Regions from separate parts of the Homo sapiens genome. Here region 2 is linked to region 1. Evidence: fine-mapped QTL for protein levels in blood plasma. A gene starts in region 1. The other region holds a variant in brackets. All regions are shown on one strand. Distances are from middle to middle.

Region 1 (12,941 bases):
CTGTTTTAGCTCGAGATATTTCCTCAATATAGTGTGCTCATTTTTTAGCTCAAGATATTTCCTGAATATAGCATTGCTGCATAAGAAATTGTTTTGTTTTTCACCTTATTTAGAAAAAGCATGCAGAAATTCAGCTGACAAATCAAGGGAAATTTCTCTTTTTTAACTACCTAGAAGTAATATTTAATGTTGCACAATATTTGAAATAATTCTTGTGGTATTTAACCTTGTGAAACCTTAAATTTATTACCTAACTGTTTAAAAATTGACATTAGATAGTTTTGGAGAAGATACTGAGGGAAAGACTCCCTCGTGTCTTGATAGTATTAACCTATCATAACTCCTTTTAAATATCATTTACTTTTTGAAAATTGCAAAATTATAGTACTTGATTTTCATGCATATGTACTTACATATTCTTCGCTATCCAGAATAACTTAGTTCTCACCATCCAGTTGTATTCTACCTATCCTTTAGAACTTGCTCTACAACATTCATCGTATAACCATTGTGCACATCCGCAATGGTGCTAGGAGTGTTATCGTCCTTTGGCAAGCCTGCCGTTACACAACAACCCACTCCAAAAGCAGAAAATAATTTTCCTTGTCTCGACATTCTGATAGAATACTGTGAATATATTTCTTCTGGGATACACACACACACACACACACACACACACACACACACACGTATATATACAGACATACAGTCATTTACCACATAATGACGTTTTGGTCAATGACTGATCACTTATATCACAGTGGTCCCATAAGATTATAATGTAGCTGAAAAATTCCTATCAACTGATGACCACCACAACATCATAATCCAATGTATTACTCACATGTTTGTGGCAGTGCTGGTATAAACAAACTTACAGCATTGCCAGTCATATAAACAATAGCACACACAATTATGTATAGTACACAATACTTGATAATGATAATAAATGACCATGGTACTGGTTAATGTATTTAATGTACTATAGTTGTTATCATTATTTTATAGTTCACTTCTTCTACTTATTAAAAAAAAATAACTGTAAAACATCCTCAGGCGGGTCCTTCAGGAACTATTCCAGAAGAAGGCTTTGTTATCATAGGAGAGGACAGCTCCATGCATGTTACTGCCCTAAAGACCTTCTAGTGGAACAAGAGTGAGGAGGAAGACAGTGATACTGATGATCCTGACCCTCCGTAGGCCGAGGTTAATGTGTGTGTTTGTGTCTGCTTTTAACAAAAAGGTGTAGAAGGTAAATAAATAAATAATTTAAAAGATAAAAATCTTACAGAATAAGGATAGAAAGAAAAAATATTTTGTACATCTATACAAGGTGTGTTTTAAGCTAAAACAAAAGAGTTACAAGTTAAAAGATTTTCAGTTGATAAAGTAGAAAGCTTATCATAAATTAATTTATTATTGAAGAAAAGTTTTAAAAATAAATTTAGTCTATCCTGGGTGCACCAGAAGCTCAGTAATTAGCACTAAAGAACTTATCCATGTAACCAAAAACCACCTGCTCCCCCCAAAATATTGAAATAAATATATAAATAAAATAAATTTACCTAGCTCAAGTATTCAGTGTTCATGAAGTTTACAGTAGTGTATGGTAATGTGCTAAGCCTTCATATTTGCACACCACTCACTCAGTGACTTACCCAGAACAACTTTCAGTCCTGCAAACCCTATTGACGGTAAGAGCCCTATACAAGTCTGCCATTCTTAATATTTTATATTGTATTTTTATTGTACCTTTTATATGTTTAGGTAAACACATTCTTACATTTGTGCTACAGTTGCCCACAGTATTCAGTACAGTAACATGCTGTACAGGTTTGCAGTCTAGGAGTGACAGGCCGTATAGCTTAGTTAGGTAGTAGGCTATACAATCTAGGTTTGTGTAAGTACACTCTATGATGTTTGCAGGAGGACGAAATTGCCTATAGACACACTTCTCAGAACGTTTTCCTATCATTAAGTGATGTATGAGTGTACACACACACACACACACACACACACACACAGACAATTACCTATATATAAAACCTTGCAATTTATTTGCCTATTTACATTTTGCTTTTCTTTTAGGACACTCTAAGTAGTAGTGAGGGGTGGGTGGCGTTGTCATATTCTTTCCAGCTTCTTTGCTACAGCATGAAGCACAATATATTGCTTGATTCATGTTTTGCTACTGGAAGCATGCAGTTTTCTATTTGTACAAAAGTGTTGCTTTCGTCTGTTATTTCTGCTGTTTGGCCAGTTTCTAAATAGACACCAAAACAAAAGTGTAATGCACACTTACAGGTCATTTAACACCTAGACAACTTTTAATAGAATTTCACTAAAGTTTATCCTGGGACTGGACTGAAGCTTGAAAGTTTTGTGGGGTTAGGAATTGTCAAAATTCTACATATTATCCTCATAATTTTCACTTATCTTCCTCTGCTTCCACCCCCCTTTAGAAATCCTTGTGTAATGCCATTTGTAACAGATGTTTAAGCCACTTAATAAATATCATAAACACAGACTTAAGAAAAATCAAATACACTCATGCAATCGCACTCTTGTGATTATAGCTCAGTACTAAAAGTGAAAACAAAATAAAATGAATTTTAGGCCCATAGAAATAATGTTTTGCAACATTTGTAAGGGCATATCTTAAAAAGAAAGCATTTTATGGTTCATATTTTTCTCTTATGTCAGGACTGAGAAGAAAGTGTTCAAAAAATTTAAAGATCTGTAAACATTAGAAAGCAGTAAAGCAGTAAAATAAAAACTTTCTGGAAATCAAAGAGTATATAGCACAATGATTGAAACTTCACGTACACACATAGTTTAATCAGTATCCTAGACCTTGTTAGAGATTTTGTTTGCAATCCTTTTGATATAGTGGCTTTAATTTCCACATGAAATAAAATGGGATAGTTTATAATGTTATAAGAATCAGTTTATAGTATTAATAAAGAAGTGATATATTATTTCACTTTTGAAATTTGTGGAAGAGCTCAGAAGAAACAATTTTTTGGCAGTTCACTGGTTTATATATAAAAATAATATTTTCTATTGTTTCATTAAAATATATTTCCCTGTTGAATGATAATTAGGCTGAAATGAGAATTCCTTCATTTTAATAACATTTAAAATGTAAATTATCAAATCTATGAAAATAAAATTCTCAAAACATAATGAAGGTGGCCAAATCTTTTGGGGTTGATTTTTCTAGTCAGTGGCATTGCAGAGTTTATGCAGAATTACACTAATATTTCACCTTGTCATCTTTATTATAGCAGATTTTCTCTCCTTTGATTTCTCTTTACATTATCTATTTGGTGACCATTTACCCTTAGCAAACTAGAGAACGGAGAGAATTAATTTCATTCAATTTTCCTGCTAATTGCATGTTGGAAAATATTTCCAGAAAATAGATGAATATTGTGATACCCCTTCAAATTATCCTCAGCTATTTATTCATTTAAAAATATTTGTATGCATACACACACACAATCAATAAATACATTTGAAAAGGAACTAAAATATTCGGATCTGTTTTCAACTTACCTTCTCCCCCAACAGTGGATACCCATGAGATTAGGATTACACTGAATAAGAGCAACATGCTTGGTAGTCTCAATCGTATATAACTAAAAATACTCCAGTGATGGTGGTGTTGCTTTAAATCTGCTTTCATTAACAGTTACAAGCATGACTTTGAATTTCAATGTACTAAGGGGAAGCTAGTTTAGTAAAGCCCTTTGTGGAAAACATCAAAGTTCATGGAGGGTTGTGTGAAATAAGCAAATAGTATCTAATCAGTGTCTTCACAATAATATTCTCAGCTCGTTATGTAATATTTATTTAAGCAAAATAACTGCTGTTCAATTTCCTTGTTGTAGTCACCGAGTCTCTGAGTTTGGAACAATCAGAAATGGACTGTTTAGAGGAGAGAGGAAGCTCCCCACCGCCGGCCCCCTGGGTTTTTTTTTTTTTTCTAGCCAAGGGTTCAGCTGTTTCAAAAGGCAAGCAAGTGCAAGTCATCAGTCCTCATCTTAATACAACAATATCACTTTTGTAGTTGTAAATTCCCTTTTAAAACTGGCACTAAGAATTAGGTACCTTCTTAACAGTTTTAATATTTCATAAACTATAAAAGGTCTAATCAAGAATTATTTTTGCTGGCCGGGCGCAATGGCTCAAGCCTGTAATCCCAGCACTTTGGGAGGCCGAGGCGGGTGGATCACAAGGTCAGGAGATCGAGACCATCCTGGCTAACACGGTGAAACCCGTCTCTACTGAAAAATACAAAAAAAATTTAGCCAGGCGTGGTGGCGGGCGCCTGTAGTCCCAGCTACTCGGGAGGCTGAGGCAGGAGAATGGCGTAAAACCGGGAGGCAGAGCTTGCCGTGAGTGGAGATCGCGCCACTGCACTCCAGCCTGGGCGACAGAGCGAGACTCTGTCTCAAAAAAAAAAAAAAAAAAAAAAAGAATAATTTTTGCCAAGTAACGTTTCCTGAAATGTTTGAAGAACAGAATTATAATTCAAAATCATTTTGTTCAGGTGGGACTTCGAGAATGGCTATGTGAGGGTCTTGGTATATTCACTCCCAACCAAAAGGCAGCAATAAAACTGGATAAAAATTTAAAAGTAACCATTGGTTGTCTCTGGAAATTGGCCAAACAGCATAATGTTGGGAAATATTTTTTCCAGAAAGTCTCCATAAAATTCAGTAAAAGAGAGCGGATGCTTTCATCCACCTCTGTCTCGCAGCCCAATTCCGTGGCTCAGAAGTTGAACCCTGGATGGGCAGGCAGGCTATGTGGACTGGAAGCTCTGCTCCCCTGCTGGAGAAGAGTGACTTTATAGCTTGGAAAGGTCCATGCCCGAGGATCCTATTGAATACAAAGAGATTACAGTGGGAAACAATCAGAGAAGACTAGAGGATACTAGCTGAAGCAAGCAACAAAGTGCCCAGCCTGAGAGAAATTTAACATTTAATGGGGAAATTTACAGAAACAGCCTAATGATCTCACTAAGAGGAAACTTACTTATGGTGGTTCAGAAGTCAATGGGAATGCACATAGCTATGTCCAATCAAGAAACCAGAGAAGTCCCTGTGAGCTATTAGTAGTCTCCACTATTGATTCTAGTCTATCTAAACCTTGTCATTTCCAATTACTACACTACCTAAAGTATCTAAATATTAAGCATCACACTCTAGACCATTTCAACAATCTTTTTAGCTCACTTACTCTACTAAATTTGTTCCAAACATTCAATGACCCTGACACTTTTTCACTATTCTCTTCCCTTCATTTTCTCTCTTCCCACCACATCTAAATTAGATTCCATGGCTCATCACTGTCAGTCAGTCCCTTGCACACACTCTCCTGCCCATTCGTTCCTTTCTATCTGTAATCCAAGTCTTAGAAAACCTCAATCCTTTGCAAATAAATTCTCTACCTGCCCTGTGCCTGAATTGAAGCAGCAGAGTGTGTCTACAAGAAAAACAAAGGCAACTGTGCTGACTTGCCTTGCTTTAAATTAATGAACACGGTCCTAAATAATTTCCACACTGCTTTTCCCCTCTCCTGTTTTCATTATCTCCCTCCTTAACCACCAATCCTCACTTTGTGCTTTGCTAATGACTTCATTTATTTTTTCATCTAGATATAGAATCAATCAGAAGAAAACTACCTGCTGTTCACACGCATCCTTTTCTGCATTGTCTCTTGCTTCACTGGATGTTGATCTTTACTCCTATCTTGTTATGGTCTCTACCAGATTTGATCCCATCTTTTCTGTGCAAGGATTTTGCTCTTTCAATTATTCCTTCTCACCTGTATCATTAATTTCTCCATTTTCCAAATTATTTCCACCAATATGCAAACATACCAAACATCTTTCATCATGAAGAGCAACAACAAAAGCTCAAAAATTGTTCATAGAACCCAAATCTCTTTCTAGTAATCTAATTCACTTCTCATTTTATAATACGATGACTCCAATGTTATCTACAATCTCTACTTTAATTCATTTTTTCATTCCCAACACTACGCTTAAACCCCTCTTGTAACAGTCACCAATGCCTTCTTCAATCTAATCAAATCCATTGGTCAAAACTGAATACTCAGAAAAATTTCATGACTTTCCCCTTCCATTTGGAAATACCTGCTTCACATGGTCTATGGAACACCACATTCTCCTGGTTTCTCTTCTGTCTCAAAGGCTTCACCATCTCAGTCTTTTGTTGGCTTCTTCTAATCTCTGTGACCTTTAAACATTGGTTTGTCTGAATCCAGGGGATGTTATTTATTTGTAAGCACAGAGTTAATTTTCACAGAGCTAGTGCCGATTTTTAGTTGAATTAACACTATCTTCTCTTGTCTATTTTTTTTGAAGCCCAGTACTCAACAATTATTCTCCTTTTTATTTGCTGAATATTTCTCCTAATTCAGAAACTTAGATTGCCCTTTTTTGTTTGTTTCTTGTTCTGAGTAATTTCAGGAGATTATGCCCTCCTGCAAACATTAGCAACAAATAAAAGGAGAAGGAAACTATACTTGATAAGAAATAAAAGGGCAGTTTAGAAAATAACTTTGTCTTCAATTTTGTGGCCAATTTTATTTTGAAAGATGCTCACTCCACTGTGTCTCATCTCACTTGTTCTTCTGCCATGTGATTTTGCCATGATCCTATCAAGATTTGGAATCACATTTCCCTCATTTTGAAAATCTGTACTTTTTAGTGGCATGCTTTTGTTGATACAATACAGTGGTAGTGACTCTGCTAGATATTAGAGAGTTATGGGTTTATATTTTGGAAGACTATCTCTCTGACACTATCTTGGAAGCCTTTTGCCATTTGGCAAGAAGTTCAATCTGTATGCAGAAGCCATATGTAAATCTTCTGGTTGATAGTCCCAGTTGGCCCAGGCAATAGCCCAGGTGTCATACAGGTGAGTGACATTTGCAGATTCCAAATCTCAGTTATTTGAGTCCTAACCCATTTAAATCTTTTCACCTGAGGCTCAAATATTGTGGAACAGTTATAAGTCATCACCTCAGTGCCCTGCGTCAATTCCTAACAGTATCTTTAAGTATAATAAAATGATTGCTGTTTTATGCCAATAAGTTTCTTACACAGCATTATAAATCTAGGAAACTGGGACCTCTTTTTTTTGTGGATTCCAGGTTTAGTGCAGGGAAAGTAAATTAAGTCTGAAACTGTTTGTTGTTACAAAAAATATGAAAGGGTTAAAAGGCAAATTATAGCATTCAAATACATATGAAACTGGCTTGTAGAAGTTATTACTGATAAAATTTGAGATAGATTTAAGTATCTCAAAGAAAAATTGCTGAAATTGGTTATAACTCTTGAATATTGAAAATTCTCTTCCCCAAAAGTGCTATAAAAGTAAAACATCCCAGCCTATATAATCCAAATAATTTTTGTTTTGAAATAATCTTAGATTCATATAATAAGTCATAAAAATAGTACAGAGAATGCCCATGTACCCTTTACCCAGTTTCCTCCAATAACTATAACTTCCTGCATCTCTTATATCTATAGTACAATAATTGAGACCAGGAAATTGACATTAGTGCTCTACTACTAACTCAGCTACCAACCTTACTGAATTTCATGGTCTCTCCCATGAACTTGCGTTTGTGTTTGTGTGGTATATTAATTTTGCAACATGTATGCACTCATGTAACCATCACCACAATCAGTCATATGTAGAACTACTCAGTCGTATACAGAACTATTCTATCACCTCCAGAAAACTCCCGTGTGCTGTCCTTTTATGGTCCCCACATTCCCCCACCCCTCATTGCTAGTCATCACTAGTATGTTCTACATAACTGTAATTTAGTCATTTTGAGTGTTATATAAATTGGATTATACAGTAAGTCAACTTTTTGATTTGGATATTTTTCACACAGGGTAATGTCCTTGAAATGTAGCCAAGCTGTTGTATTATAAGTAATTCATTTCTTTTAATTGCTGTGAAGTACTCCATTGTATGGATGTAACATGTTTGTTTATTCTTTCGCTCATCTGAGGACATTTGAGTTGCTTCTACTTTTTGGCTATTACACATAAAGCTATGATGGACAATTTTGTGCAATGTTTTACTTGAACAGCAAACTTGTTCTCGAAGGGTCATATGTTTAGTATTTTAAGGTTGTGAACCATATGGCCTCTGCCACAACTACCTAACTTTGTAGTTATAGAGCCAAAATAATGATAGACAATACATAAATAAAAAGGTGTGGCTCACATCCAATACATCTTTATTAAGAAAATAGATAGCTAGTTCCTAAGATATAGTTTGCCATCTCCTGCCCTATGGTAAACAGTCAGGGGTGAGATTACTGGGTTTTATGAAAAGTGCTATTGAACTCTATAAGAAATTGTCTGTTTTCCATAGTGGCTATGACATTTTACATTTCCACAAGCAATGTATGAGAGATCCATTGTATTGCATTTTCACTTGCACTTACTATTACCAATGTGTTTCATTTAATTTTTTTAAAGCATTTTATTAGATACATAGTAAATCTCATTGTGGTTTTAATGTGTATTCCCTAATGGTTAATGACATTGAATAACTTTTCACATGTTTATTTTCCATCTGAATATCTTTTTTGTTAGATCTGTTCAAGGCTTTGGCACCTTTATTGATTGGATTGTTTTACCTGTGTTTAGAGCATTCTTTATATATTCCATGTATAAGTCCTCTGTCAGATACGTTATTTGCAAATATTTTTTGCTAATAAGTAGCTTATCTTTTCACTCTCATAGAATGTCTTTCATGGATAAAAAGTGTTTAATGTTGATAAAGTATTATTATTATTTCACTCTTTTATGGGTCATCCTTTAGGTGTCCTGTTTAAGAACAATTCCATCAAACCCCAGATCACAAAGATTTTCTCTTCCTCTACAAGTTTGATTGTTTTACATTATGCATTTAGATATAGGAACCATTTGGAGTTAGGTTTTGTAAAATATGTGAGATTAAATCAAAATTAATTTTTTGGCTAAGAAAGTGCTAGTCCCCAACACAATTTGTTGAAAAGAAACTTTTCTCAACCACATGCCACACATTCTCACTTCTAAGTATGAGCTCAATCATGAGAAAACATGAACACATAGAGGGGAACAACACACACTGGGGCCTAATGGACGGTGAAGGGTGGGAAGAGGGAAAGGAATAGGAAAAATAACTAATGGCTACCAGGCTGAATACCTGGGTGACAGAATACTCTGTAAAACTAACTCCCATGAAACAAGTTTACCTATGTAACAAACCTGCACAGGTAGCCCTGAACTAAAAAAAAAAAAAGGATCTTTTCTGTATTGAATTATTTGTGCATCTTTGTTAAAAGTTACTTGAGCATATTTGTGTGGGTCTATTTCTGGATTCTGTATCTGTTCTATTGATTTATGTCTATCCCTCCATCAATACTATATTGTTTCTAATATGGTAGCTATATTTTGAGGCCTCAAATTTGATTTTTGTGATCCTTTCAACTTTATTATTTTAAAAAAATGTTTCAGCCATTCTAACTCCTGTGCATTTTAATATAAATTTAGTATGGAATGATCTATATTTACAAAGAATTCTGTTGAAATTTTAATAAGTAATTATGTTAAGCCTATAGTACAATTTGAGAAAAATTTATTTATTTATCCTGTTGAGTATTCTAGCCCAAGAACATGGTATTGCTCTCTATTTAATTCTTCCTTGATTTTCCTAGGGAATACTTCTTTTCATATTGACAAAAATACATATTAGAAAATAGGTATCAACTATCAAGGCTTTTGTCCATTTTAGAAATAATACAAATATTTCTATGAATAGAAATATTATATTTATTTGTTTTTTCTCCCAAGAGAAATTTGTGGATATGCAGAAATAAAACAAGGACAATTATATGACCTTTTCTGGATTCTGTATCTGTTCTATTGATTTATGTCTATCCCTCCATCAATACTATACTGTTTTTAATATGGTAGCTATATTTTGAGGCCTCAAATTTGATTTGTGTGATCCTTTCAACTTTATTATTTTAAAAAAATGTTTCAGCCATTCTAACTCCTGTGCATTTTAATATAAATTTAGTATGAAATGATCTATATTTACAAAGAATTCTCTTGAAATTTTAATAAGTAATTATGTTAAGCCTATAGTACAATTTGAGAAAAATTTATTTATTTATCCTGTTGAGTATTCTAGCCCAAGAACATGGTATTGCTCTCTACTTAATTCTTCCTTGATTTTCCTAGGAAATACTTATTTTCATATTGACAAAAATACATATTAGAAAATAGGTATCAAGTATCAAGGCTTTTGTCCATTTTAGAAATAATTCAAATATTTCTATGAATAGAAATATTATATTTGGGGAATAGATAGTCCCCAAAGCTTTACGTCTTTCCTTCTCACTTGATTTTCATAAAATGCTCCCAAATAATATAAGGGCTACATCTGTCATCTCTTCAGGCTCTTTTAGACCTTGCCCCTGTCAAGACACAGATCCCTTTTGAGGCATCCCTCTCTACTCACCGAATGATTTATGCAGATAATGATCAGGGCATTTACTTACTAAGACACTTCACTGTTGATACCCATTCTTTCTCTGTGCATGTTACGTGAGTCTATAGGGGATTTGAAGGAGATACAAAGCTATATTCACAGGAGTAATAGAACAGTTTTTTTTTCTTGTGAACTGGTAAAGTTGGTTTATATTTATCTTGGTCATATAATTGTCCTTGTTTTATTTCTGCATATCTACAAATTTCTCTTGGGAGAAAAAAACAAATAAATATCCTGAATTAAAGAATATACAGCTTATATTTCAATGATGTCATTGATGCATTTTATTCATTTAACTCATTACCACTTGTCGTTAGTGATTAAGAAACAGAGAACTATATGTAACCCAGAATGCAAAAGTATTTAATAACATCATTGTTAAAGAAGACACTATAACATTTTTGGAGTCAAATCAAGTGTAAACTCTTTTGAAGTGTCTCCAAGAAGATAACAATACAGAACAACACAAAAATCAAGGTAGAGGATCTGAGTAGCTTTATACTGCAGTCCTCTCATGCCTAAGATTTACGTAGGTTGGGATAAGAGTACAGATTTTAAATCTCTATTCAATTCCGTTCTCCTTTCTTTTCTTTGCCTGTCATGAAATCTTTTAGCAGAAAGCCGAGCCGTGTCTGCCCCTGCTAGTTCAGCTAAGATACTGCCTGGGTAAGTTTTTTATACTATCATTTTTCTGACTGTAAACATAATGTACTTTCAGTGAAGAAAATTTAGAATGAACAAAGAATCATAAAACAAGGAAGCAAAAGCTCACCCCAAATAAAAAATCCGAGATATAATTACAACTGGATTATGATGAATAGAAAATAGGTATGTACATGTGTATACATTTGTATATATTGTGATGGCAAAATATGAAAATAATTTAGAATTGGCATTGTCTCTAGAAAAATAGATCTGTGTGGATATAACACATCATATAAGCAACATATAAATAAATATTAATATATAAATAAAAATGTAATATATGGTAAAGAACTATAAATAATTTGTATGTCAACACATAGTTTATGTACATTACTCCACAATTAATGTTTATCACAGTTTTAAGATATCATTTGATAGGATGAAAATTTTTTTCAACAAGTTTCCTAATAAAAAGACCAAATCTGAAATATTTACTTAAGTAAAGAGAAAAACCAATCTTCAAAGACCTGAAGCTAAATCCTATTAAACTTTTAATTAGGCCAGTTGCAGTGGCTCACACCTGTAATCTCAATACTTTGGGAGGCCGAAGTGGGCAGAATACTTGAGGCCAGGAGTCTGAGACCAGCTTGGTTAACATGGCGAGTCCCTGTCTCTACTAAAAATATAAAAAAATTAGCCGGGACTGGTAGCGCACTCCTGTAATCCCATCTACTTAGGATGCTGAGGCACGAGAATCTCTTGGACCCGGGAGGTGGAGGCTGCAGTGAACCAAGACCGTGCCGCTGCACTCCAGCCTGGGCAACAGAATGAGGCCCTGTCTAAAAGAAAAAACCTTCAGAAACTTTTAATTAATTAATTTATGCACATATTAAGTACAAACATTAAATTATTTCTAAAATTCTATATAATGTTACTAACTACAACACATTTTATTTTCATCTTTTTTGTTTGTTTTGTGTTCTCTGTTTTTGGTGCCCATTGTGTTTCATCAGTTAATAAGGTTTTTTTTGTTTTGTTTTTTGTTTTTTGTTTTTTTTGAGGCAGAGTCTTGTTCTGTTGCCCAAGCTGAAGTGCAGTAGTGGTGTGATTTTGGCTCACTGCAGCCTCTGCCTCCAAGGTTCAAGTGATTCTCCTGCCTCAGCCTCCTGAGTAGCTGGGACTACAGGCACGCACCACCATGCCCAGCTAATTTTTGTATTTTTAGTAGAGACACGGCTTCACCATGTTGGCCAGGATGGTCTTGATCTCCTGACCTCATGATCTGCCTGCCTCAGCCTCCCCAAGTGCTGGGTTTGACTTGAGCCACCGCAGTACAGACTTGTACTTGTACTTGAGCCACCTCAAGTACAGACTTGAGCCATCGCAGGTGATAAGTTTTAATGGATAATTATTTGACTTTTAATCTCCTAACTGAGCAAAGAAATGAGAACAGGTTGTGATGTCCTACTCCCACTATTTTCCTCCAGGGATCACGTAAGATGATCATGCAAGAGTTTACTTAATACATAGCCTTCTCCCTTGCTGAGAGCTCCAGGGTTCTCCAGCTGTACTCCATAAAGTCCCTGCCATACATCCCATCTTTACTTACAGAACATATTCTTCCTACCGACACTCAGGACCAAACCATTTTAGAAATATGTCTTATAGCAGAACTGTGCAAGTTAACTAAAAATGCTC
Region 2 (12,612 bases), 27 kb before region 1:
TCTCCATTTTAACTGTATGTTATTTTTGTTCATGTTTTCTTCAGATACCACACATGGATCTGAAAGAAGAAATGGTAAAATAAAATAAATAAATAATAATACATCTTTACCTTTCATAGAATAGTGAAATTGCATTTAAGAATATTTTGGAATTAAAATGATGAAAAATATTAATATTTATTTAAAAAATAATATTTATTGAGTTATTCTTGGTACTGTTCTTAGCACTGTGTATGGGCTACATATGAGGAAATAAATGCTAAGAGATTTTCTCAAGGCTACACAGTTTAGTGAGTGTTTTGAGCCAGAATATGCATCCTGCCAGTATGAGTTCAGAACCTGAGCTCTTAATTGCTATACTTTACTAAAAATTCTACCAGCATGAATGTTGTTTGTTTAGATATCCCTTTTTATAATGTAATTATTTGTGAATCTTAACTTTGTGAAACCTTGATTTCTGTAGAAAAAACAATGTTATCTTCTTCCCTGACCCCAGATATCACTCACTCTTTCTTAAAATCAGCACTTTATATATATATTTATATATATCTTATATATAATATATAATACATAATACATAATATAATGTGTATATATAACATACATTTATATGTATGTTAATTGTAATATATGTACGTTAATTGTATACATGTTACATACAATTTATATCTAATGTAATGTAATCAATTTATATCTAATGTATAAATATATATCGGTATATTATGTATAATATATGGATTATATATAATGTATAATATAATATATTATACATAACATATTATATGTATATTATATGTATACATATATTGTATGTATATGTATCATGTGTATATAAGTATACATATATTATACATACATACTTATGTATATTTAGATATGTTACATATGTATATGTGTATACATATATGTTAAAAATATATGTAATATGTAATATATTTATATTACATATACACACATGTATATGTAATTATACACTTGTATGTATATTAGAGTGCTTAACTCTCCACATCCTTGCCAAGTCTTTATGTTATATACTTTTTTCTTTTTGCCGATCTCCTAGTTGAACATTGACACTTCACTGAAATTTTATGTTCGTGTAGACAAGCATTCTTTCATGTTTGCCATATGTTTTTCATTTTCTGTTTATGTACCTTACATAATTTTTATACTGAATTTTGATTGATTTGTAAAAATTCTTATGTGTTAAGCACCTGAGAATATTCTCCATAAATCGAGAAATTTTGAAGTTATCTTTAACCCCTCTTTCATTTGGTTCCTGTTTTTTACCTACTAGTCAAGACTCTAATCTATCTCTGCCAGGGCCTTAAACAATTTCCCCATATTGCATGTTTTCTCGGTGTAAAATAACCACATGTTCTTAGTCAACTGATAATTTAAAAATACTACATTGGGCCGGGCGTGGTGGCTCACGCCTGTAATCACAGCACTTTGGGAGGCCGAGGCGGGTGGATCATGAGGTCAAGAGTTCAAGACCAGCCTGGCCAACAGGGTGAAACCCTGTCTCTACTAAGAATACAAAAATTAGCCGGGCATGGTGGCATGTGCCTGTAATCCCAACTACTCGGGAGGCTGAGGCAGGAGAATCGCTTGAACCCAGGAGGCGGAGGTTGCAATGAGCCGAGATCACGCCACTGCGCTCCAGCCTGGGTGACAGAGCAAGACTTTGTCTTGAAAAAATAAAAATAAAAAAAGATGCTATGTCAAAAAACTGCTATTAAAAATATGTAATGGCTCCCTACTTCATTCAATACCCATGAACCATCCAAATAAATTTATGTCTGGTTTTGGAAAAAATTATATCTTTTTTTTTTTTTGACGGAGTTTCACTCTTGTTGCCCAGGCTGGAGTGCAATGGTGCAATCTCGGCTCACTGCAACCTCCACCTCCCAGGTTCAAATGATTCTCCTGCCTCAGCCTCCCGAGTAGCTGAGATTACAGGCACGTGCCACCCATGCCTGTCTAATTTTGTATTTTTAGTAGAGATGGGGTTTCTCCATATTGGTCAGGCTAGTCTCGAACTCCCGACCTCAGGTGATTCTTCCTGCCTTGGCCTCCCAAAGTGCTGGGAATACAGGCGTGAGCCACCATGCCTGGCTGGAAAAAATTATTTCTTCAGAGCTGTCTAATCTTAATCTCCTATCTCATGGGAAATAAAATTATTTTACATTTCATAGTTAGATCATGTTTCCTTGAATTTTCCAGATATCTATGATGGGTTTTTTTGCTTGTTTGTTTTCGTGATTGTGTGTTTGTGTTTGTTATTGTTCAAAATACTGTTTCTTTTTGCTAGAATGCCCTTCCCACAAACTCTGATTGTCAACATGGTACACACTTTTTAGGTTACAAATTTTGTTCTTACTTTTCTTTTGGAAATTTATTTTATGATCACTGGCCATGATAATTTCTGCGAATTTTAAATTATTGGACCATCTAAAACTTGGCTGTACTTAAAATATTAGATAATGGCATTTTTGTCTATCCATCAATCACTCCAAGTTAAATCCTAGAAGTTATCTTTGAAACCTAGTTTTTCTTCATTCTAGCAAAATTGTTCAGATGATACTTCTGCCTTATACTAACTCAACACTTTCTGAGTTCAGTTCCCACACAATTTTAATGATATCCTGGGAGAGGGGCTCACACAGAGTAGTGGTTTGAAGCACTGTATAGGCCATAGTGGCATTGGGGTAATTTGTTACTACAGAAGGTGGAAGAAAGAGACATCGTCAGAAGGATGAATTTTCAAGACTATAACAAACTTCTGGTCTAGCCCTGTGAGGTATTGGGCAACAGTGAGAACTGTTGCAGGAACAGATCCTTATTACCATGGTGTCTCTTTTGGACACCAGAAAACAGAGGGGTTTATGGAAATTCCAGTTTTCTTCCACTTATTATAGAGTAAACTGACGTTCATGCTTTTCCCATAATTGGTGTTATTAATTCGCCCCATATCTTTGTATTTTGTCCCTTTTAGTTTGTCATGACCGATAAAAGAATCTCCTTTTAAGCCCTAAAAGTGAATCTCCAAATTTTCATAAGGAGTCTACGATGTTAATTTTTTTAATGCCACAAAGTGCACATGAATTTGTGGAAACTTAATATGTATATTGGCATTATTTTGTAGTAGAAAAAAATAGGGTGAAAAGAAGGGATAGTGAAGATTTAGAAAGTGGCTCAGTAACTCTTCCAGATTTTCTATCTCTCCTGCTAGAAATTCTGCCAACATGCAAGTAAAAAGCCATGTCAGTATTAGTCAACTAGGTGTTCTACTAGGGAAAGCTTTCAGGTTTACAAGTAGAACCTTATATAGTATTAAATGACAGTTTTCCTAGACCAGTGTTTTTCAAAGGGTCTCTGTGAGAAGTTCTCAGGTAGATGCTTATAACATGAAACAATTTAATGGAGTGCGAATAGGCCCCATAAATAGCTCTGGACTCTACAGAATTTCATAATGCACCTTATCACATGTAGGTCTTTAAAATTTTATTTATAGTTTTTAAATAAATTTTTCTCACTTTGCATAAAGCAAATTTTTCAAATGTTTCCTTGTATGTATTTACATTTGACAGGAAAGATTTTGACTGAATGAAACTTAAGTAAGGGTTATTCTATGAAATTAGTCCAAAAAAATTACACTATAAATATTAAATCTCAGATTCCAAGAGAATATTAAGAACTCACCTAGGCATCTTGGTGGTTCTGACCACTGTTTATTTCTGCATGTTACAGTTACAGAGCCCTGGAGTTTATAGAAGGACTGGCAACGGTACGTCACTGTTGACCCTGGAGGATATACTGATAATGGGAATGAGGTGGTATCTCCATTGTTAATAGATGGAGGGGGCCCACAATATGCAGTAGACTCTGGAAAACAGCATTTATTTGTTGAGACATTATGTTAGTTTAAACAAAATAATATAATGAAGCATCATGTATCATATCTTTAATATAAGGTGTCTGGAAATTCAAATAATTAATTACAGTATTTCTGTCATAAAGTCTGATTCAAAACATATTGTAGCTCCTTTCATGTTAAAGTGAAATTCATATAAAATACCGGGAATACTTTTTATTGAAGGCAGGAGAGACAGGTGAGTAAACTTCTGGTCTAGGTTCCTCCTCCACCCCTTAATATTCAATTGTCACTTAAAGAGGAAAGGTAAAAGTAAATAACTTTCTTACTGTTTCTAGTCTCAGGGTAATTATTACTTTATGCAAATAGCATATACCAACTAGTATATGATCATAAACTTGTAGTTTTACTGAAAATGAATTGCAGACACACTCTTCTGCATTTACTTTTTTGATACCAAATAATATTGTAGGCATCTTTCCCTATCAATAAATGTTTCAACTTCATGCTAATGAAGAGATTTTGGGGAAAACTAAAAAAAGTAACAACTTCATGCTAAGATTGGCTGGAATACGTTCAATTGTACTGACTGATCTCCCTTTATATATCACCAAGAACATAAATATGAAATCACTAAGTAATCCTATCCCAAATTGCTTGTACATCCTCTAGTTTCATTGAGTTACTGTCCTTGCTTTCTCAGATTGACTTCTTCATGATGACACTAGATTCTTTCACCTTTAAACTTGTAAAAGATCCTTCTTCATGAATTATCTCCTTTCTTCTGTAACATCAATGTCTCCCTTTCCACTTAATCATTCACCAACCTACAAACATGCTGAAAATGTCACAATTCAATAAGGTAAAATTTCACTTTCTCCATATCTTCTATCCGGTAACTGCCTCATTTCTCTATTCCCTTTTGAACACATTTACTTGTTTCTCATCCTCCATGATCTTACTTTATCACCCCACATTCTTTCTTGAACACACTGCAATTACTTACCCCCTATGGAAATATCTCTAGGCAAAATTACCAATGGTTTTTATTTAGATAAATAGATTGTTCAATTATCAGGCATCTTGTCCAGCTCTAAGCACTCTTTGCCATATCTGATGTTTTGTCAAGTAATATTTTGAAATATGTGCTTTTGAAATGCAGCCATGTAGCACTTAATGACAAGAAGATATTCTGAGAAATGTGTCATTAGGCTCTTTTTTCCTTGTGTGAGCATCATGGAGTGAGCCTACACAAACCTAGATAATGTTGCCTACTACACACCTAGGCTATATGGTGCAGCCTATTGCTCCTATTGTCCCCAAACCCCTGGCTGCAGACCAGTACCCTCTGTGGCCTCTTAGGAACCGGGCTGCATGACAGGAAGTGAGAGGCAGGCGAATGAGCATTACTGCCAGCATTACTACCTCCTGTCAGATCAACCAGGGCACTAGATTCTCATAGGATCTTGAACCCTATTGTGAACTGCACATGCAAGGGACCTAGGTTGCATGCTCCTTATGAGAATCTAATGCCTGATGATCTGAGGCACAGGAGTTTCATCCTGAAACCATCCCCCAACCTCCTCAGTCCATGGAAAAATTGTCTTCCACAAAACATGTCCCTGATGCTAAAAAGGTTGGGTATTGCTGTCCTAGGCCACAAACCTGTACAGCATGCTACCATACTGAATACTATAGGCCATTGTGACATGATGGTAAGTATTTGCATATCTAAACATATTTAAACATAGAAAAGGTACAGTAAAAATATGATAGAAAAGATTTTTAAGAAGATGTAGAAATTTCAAACTTGTTTCTTCTATGAACACTGTTGGAGATAACTCTTAGAGAAACTTTTTTAAATGACAGAATTGGTTACTTAGCAATTTAAGGCTTTGGGGTACAGTGCAACAGATTAGTCATAAGTTCTTGTTTCTTTCTTTAGATAAAGCAAAGGGGATTAATAACCTCTTTTTAAGTGAAATTACTTAGAAATAAACTACTAACCAACACAGCGTGGTAATGATTGCCATCGTCCATCTTTACATACAATTTCTTTTGCTTCTGGAAGTAGATAGTTTTCTTTACAGAGAACAGCTACTTTTTCTCCATCCTGATAATTCACTGTGGTTGTCATATTCTGAGCATTAGGTATCTGAGGTGGCGGTGGGCAGAATTGTTCCCTTTTTTCTACAAAATATTGGAATTAAATTATATGATTAATAAAAGTTAAGTAAAAACAGCTCAATAGGGTAGTGTTTCAGGAAAATGGAAGATTCAATGACACACACACACTATGTCTCTCTATCACTTTCTCTTTCTCTCTCCCTATATATAAATGTTATAATAACAAATATTTTTTGTGTCACTATAGTTTACAGTTTAAAAAGCGATTCTTTTTGTTATAACCATTAGTTTAAAATTTTTCAGATGCTCTCTTGTATCTCCTATTCATTATTCCTGTCAATTCTCTTGTATAATTTACAAATAAATTTCTTTAATTTTTTTCTAACTAACCCATATGATTCAAAAAGTTATGTACATTGAATTTAAACAATTTAAAAATAAAAATGACAACAATCAGAAATAACTATGACTTCCCCTAATAACTGAACCCTAGATCTCAATAAAGGATTTCCATGACTTGCATTTTCTTGTAAACATGAGAATGGCTGGTAATGAACATAACTGGAATGCCTCCGTTGGACTAGGAATTAAATTCTTTTTTGGTTGCTTGGCTTATTCTTAGGGAAAAGTTTTAAATGGTCAACTTGGATGCCAAAGCGTTTTCTAAACCTCCTGACCTGGGCTCATGCCCTTACAGTGATCTCCTTCATCTCATGTTTTTCCAGAGTGGTGGCTACTGTCTACTAACACTTCCCTTCAAAATGGTGGGAATTGAACAATGAGAACACATGGACACAGGAAGGGGAACATCACACACCGGGGGCTGTTGTGGGGTGGGGGGAGGGGGGAGGGATAGCATTAGGAGATATATCTAATGCTAAATGACGAGTTAATGGGTGCAGCACACCAACATGACACATGTATACATTTGTAACAAACCTGCACGTTGTGCACATGTACCCTAAAACTTAAAGTATAACAATAATTAAAAAAAACATATTCAGTGAAAAAAAAAATTATTGCATTGAAAGTGCTATTTTTTTTCCTCGCTATACTATTTTCATTTAAAAATCAAGACAGAAGAGTGCATATCTACTCTTTCCTGGTTTAGCTAGATTAAAAAATATAATAATTATATACAACAGATCTTTAATAAATTATTTGAACAGAACCTGAGGTCAGTATAAAATAAGCCAAAACATACATATTGTCTAAAATAGGAATTTTATACTGGATTTTTCCTTATTTTTTCAAGGTCAGAAAGGCAAAATAGTGCAAATCTAAACAGAAACTGTTCCTGTGGAAATCTAGATAGATATCTGGGACTGGGGCCCACTGATGCGTATTTTATGTTTTATATGACTCGTCCTACTTATTTACTGGTTTAAGAAAAGCGTGAACTTAAAGTACTTAGTTCCAGATGCATCTTATTCTAGTCAACCATTAACAAGACCAGTCTTTTGTGATCAGTGTTGTTTCAGTAATTAACTGCAAAAGAAAATAAAATTAGCCTGATATTATTATTGTTAGTATACATTTTTGATTAGCAAAGTTTGGTCATGAGTTTGAAGAAAGTCTATGAGAAGCACATGAAAAGAGGATATCAGGCACATTTGATAGATAGATGGGTCAGTTTTCAATATTATTTATTATTTAGAAGCTCTTCTACTTAATGTCTTATTACCTCTTTGTTTAGGTATTTTGTAAACATTTTGGAAACTAAACATTTTTGTTGTTTATGAATTTCTGTTTGGTGGTTTAAGTATTTTTATTTAAATACATAGTCACAAAGATGAATACTTATTGAGTATCATCAAGACTCTTTTGAATGAGCCTCAAGGCCTGTGCTGCCAATCTAGGGACTCAGCAGTTACCTGCTATGAGCCTCCTAGATGTCCCAGTGCCAGGAAATAGGGAAGCTGAAGGTGTCTGTAATCTCAAATGTACAAATAATAATGAGAATTTCATCAACAAAGTCCCAACTAAGTGAGTTAGATATTCAAATATCACACATATACTATTGTTTTTATATTTTAGGTAAAAAGAACATTACACATAATGATCTCAGTTGCCCACCTTACTTTCCTTTTAGAATTGGACATCTGTTTAGAAATTTCTGTCTAGTAAAGACAGAGTCTAGTTGAAACAGCACTGATATAAAAATCTGGAAACAAGTTCCAGTCTTGATTTTGACCAAATAACTTCTTGAAGCCATGTATTTCTGATGCATAAAATGAGAAATTTTATTATTTTTCTCAAGAACAAGCAAGGTGTGTAACAAATATTTGCCACCTAATAACGTTCTTACCTAATTTCCAGACTACTAGCTACCAGCTCTTCTCAAAACTTTAAATAAGGCTTCTTCCTTATTTTGATACCTATGACTCATAGTATTTTCCTTCTCTTTATGCTTGTAATTTATTTATTTAAAAAATTGAACTCATATTATTATTCCCTGTATTTCAGTTTTCATCTACTCTTTGGTTGTAGAAATGTTTATTTGTGTATGCACACCATTCTTGATTAGAGTCAACTCATTTAGACAGCTCTGCTTATTAATCTTTTCAAAACATTAGTTTCATATCTTGGATTAGTTGGAAATACAAGGTTCTATTTCATTTTCTTCTGCTTTTACTTTTATTATTTCCTTTTCCTCCTAATATCTGAATTCATTTTCCCCCTAGCTTTTTAGGATATACATATATATTATATATATACACACACACACACACACACACATATATATACACACATATATACATATATACATATATGTGTGTGTGTATATACATATGTGTGTGTATATATATGTGTGTGTGTGTATATATATATATATATATATATATATATATATATATATACTTTTTCCCAAAATAGATAAGTTTAAGACTATGAATGCCACATCATTCTAAATTTTGCTTAGGTTGCATCTCATAGGTTTTACTACGTATCCTTGTAATTATAACATAGTTCTTAATATTTTAAACATTACATCACTAGGTTATTTGGAAGTAAATTATTTGCTTACCCAAAATGAAAGGTAAGGAAGTGGATAACTTTTTATACACTTTTAATGTTATTTGTTTGTGGTTACAAAAAGTCATCTATAGGGCTTTAATATTTGAAGTTGTGAGAATTATTTTGGGCAGAATGACTGGCCAATTTAAGTAAACATTTCATGGACACATAAAAGGCTTCAAACTTCTTTCAACTATCAGAATATTTCTCTTCCTCAAATAGAAAAAATATATAATGAAATCAAATATTTTATAAACATAAAAATGTTCCAGTTGCTTTAAACAAATTGTAGTTATCTTATCTTTTTGAAATCCTTATGTATTTAAGTTTAAGAATATATTCCAGTATTTTTCCTCACAATTTCTAATGACATCACACTTTTTGCTATAAATTAGTATTTTATATCATTAATGTGTATTTTATATGATTTCTTTCAAACTATGACCTTGTGTGTAAACTCCTATCCTTCCTGTGGTTGCAAATTTCTTTATTTTGGAATCATTAGTGAATTATATTGGTACATAGAATGACTGGTTGCCAGTTACTTTCACTAAGCACTTTGAAGAGATTACCTTATTTTCTTCGGCTTTTGACGTTGCTGATGAGAAGTCTGCAGTCTATCTTCTCTCTTTTATTGTCATTCCTTTATAAGCACTTTGTTTTCTCTAGTTCTGGTTTATTTTAATCTAATATGGTGCCCCATTTTATAATTACTTGTAATTTATAATCCTATTACTCAAAGTAAATGATTTGAATATAAGCCTTCGAGGAATGTGAGACTTTTTCTTAGGGAAATAATTGATTACTCAAATATATTTTCTTTCTCAGCCTACTTTTTACTCAGCCTACTGTCTGGTCCAGAATTGGCAATATCTGTTAGTTTTGTTTCACAGTGCATAATTGGGGTTTTAATTGTTTCTTAATGTCATTGAAGATTAAGTTTTGTTCTTTTTTTACAGTTCTTTATTTCTTTTTTTCTTTCAAGGTTTTGTGAGACTGTAATAGAGTAAAAACAGCTTTACTCTCTCATCTTTACCAGAAAGCCAAGGCTTTTAAAGAATAACATTTGTCTGGAAAGAGTATTATAACTAGTTTCTACTTTACTATTAGCATAGAAATTATATGCCACAATAAATATTTAATTTAAAAACATTCTAATTTCAAAATAATTTTTCTTGTAAAGAAGCAACAAGATCAACAAAATGTTTTAAACAAATCTTACCTGTGCAGTCTACTTCAGGATTCCATTTCCCGTTTATACAGACTGAGTGCCTGTATCTGAAGATGTCTGAACATCTGTAA[C/T]GTATTCTAGAATTATGATTAAATTCTTTCCCAGATAGCTTGAGTAATGTTTTTATATTAACTCCTGCTATTTTGCACCTCTTAAGTTGGTGTGTTGCTATAAAAAATAATATTAAATAGAAACTAAACAATTATGTCAATAAAATATCTGCAATATTAATAGCATAATTATGTTTGATGCTTTTAAGCAACATCACAAAACTTATTCTTAATCTCATTGCACAAAATAGACAATGCTGTTGGAAAAAGAAAAAATAAAACAAAAAACTGTATCCCATCTTTGAATGACAGGAAAGTAGGTCAGAAAGTTTTCTGGGAAATGAAAGTGCAAGATAGGTTTTCCTAGTGGGAGTTTTGACTGAAAGATAGTTCTTAGGAAGCTACAAATGAATTGTTAGAGGCTCTGAAAATGTACACATGTATGATTGTTTTGCACTAAACTATCTTAAATATCTTCAAAACATTTAAATAATAAAAAGAGGCAATACATGGGTAAGTCTGCAGGAAGCAAAGCATCAGTAAGAGATAGATCTGGGTCCCCCTTGAGGTTCAATGACTCACATTTCAAAAGCTCAGCAAAAACTCTGACTCAGTAAGTCAGAGTATTCTCAGGGGAAGAACTCACTGATAATAACACAACTGAGCTTCAGAACATAAATTCCTACTAAGCCTCTTGCTTGTCTAAGTAGTTCTCATTGTTACATTTTTTTCCCGTTTCCCATAAACATGTAGATAGTTATGGAGCCTTTTCCTTAGTGTGTAAAAGGATGGGATAATGAGACATGGAGTGTGCTCTGCTACTTCTATGCTTACAGGTGTTTTCTGCAATAGTTTCTATTTTTAATTCACCCCATATGGGGCTAGAGGTTGATATTTATGTACTCCTTGCATAAAAGTTGATGACCATGAAGATATATGATCTACATCTTCCCATAACAGCGTTCTGGCTCCTGGTAGTGGAAAACATTCCCTCACAATAGGTCATCACGGATGGCCACTGACCAGGTATTTGCTGGGACAACGGCTGGCAACACCTACAGTAATTTTTCCCAGCAATGAGTGGGCCAGTTGATTATCCAAAAGTCCAGGAGATGGAGAGAGAGGCGGTTCTGTTTCAGTTTCTGTAAGGAGGAGAACAGCGGCGGAAAGTCTGCTTGTCTTTAAAGTTCAAAATTAGAGGCTTTAATGTATTGAGGTTGCTAGAGATAGGACAAAAGAGGCCAGGATCTGAGGGTGTCGGGAAAAAAAATACCTGCAAGTACTTAAGTGTCAAGGCTGGAAGTCCTGAGGCTGCAAGGTAAGAGTAGAGCACACAGGCTGATAGACTACTACTACTTACTACTTACTACTTACTTACTACTTACTACTTACTACTTCTGTGGAGGAAACCGACAAACTAAGTAGATAATTAGGAATAGAAATAAGAGAATTATGGGACCAGAAAGAGCAAGGATCATGCCTAGTTCCTGGGTCCTAGTCCCCTACTCTTCTTCTATGAAGGGATTCCAAACACTCTGGAATTTAATAGAACTCAAGCTACATTGCTATTTTTTAGGTTGTTCTATCTGGAACATGCTGAGGTAAAGACTAAGTTAAAGCAATGAAATAAAAGAAATTAAATCGCCATCATTTGTAGAAATACAATATCCCAATTAAATATTAGAACTAATACAGAAATTCAACAAGGTTACTGGAAACAAAAATAATGTATGCAATTAAATCACATTCTTGCATATAGAAAGTATAACTATTCAAGCATATACATTAATAAAAGTTTCCATTCATCATGCCAGAAAAATCCCAAATAAATTGGTGAAGAAATCTGTGCAGTAATAACAAGAAATTCATAAAACCATATGGTAAAGTTTAATGTAAGACCTGAATAAATGGATTGACATATTTTACTTGTGGAAGGAAGAGTCAGTATCAATAAAATTGTAATTCTAGCCAGATTTATACACTTTATACAATCCCAATCAAAATGATAAATAATCAAATATAAAGTTTAGGAATGTTTTCTCACCAACACACATAGGAAGCTCTGTCCATATTCCATTAATACAGGTAATCATGTTATTTCCAATCATTGCATATTCATTTCTGCAATTCACCTCGACTGAAACTCCATGTTGATAGGGAGGGACAGACGGCTGAACATAACCGTACTCGAGTTCAGGTATGTATCCACATGTTTTCACTTGTTCTAAGAAAATGTAATAAAATGAGTGCTTACTCTGAAAATATTTTAAATCTGTTTACATGTGTATTTATATATAAGTGCAAAGTAATAG

Evidence for each region. A credible set is the group of variants that fine-mapping cannot tell apart. PIP is the chance, under the fine-mapping model, that this variant and not a neighbour inherited with it causes the effect. Protein levels are from the aptamer-based SomaScan assay of Sun 2018.
Region 2: its variant is the best candidate, but not a certain one, in a credible set for the plasma level of the CFHR5 protein (Sun 2018, PIP 0.76). The variant lies in the coding sequence of CFHR5. If it changes the protein, the assay may bind it differently, which can mimic a change of level.

The regions. Positions count from the first base shown.
Region 1 is chr1:196,968,340-196,981,280 of GRCh38, reverse strand. It overlaps CFHR5 (complement factor H related 5), which reads right to left and starts at 3,725. Exons shown (of 10, transcript NM_030787.4): 1 at 3,559-3,725. The coding sequence starts at 3,616.
Region 2 is chr1:196,995,934-197,008,545 of GRCh38, reverse strand. It overlaps CFHR5 (complement factor H related 5), which reads right to left. Exons shown (of 10, transcript NM_030787.4): 6 at 12,345-12,524; 7 at 10,242-10,418; 8 at 5,882-6,064; 9 at 3,703-3,885; 10 at 1-59. Among named protein-coding and RNA genes, the nearest start is that of CFHR5, 25 kb to the right of the region's middle. The variant C/T (reference allele first, on the strand shown) is at 10,322.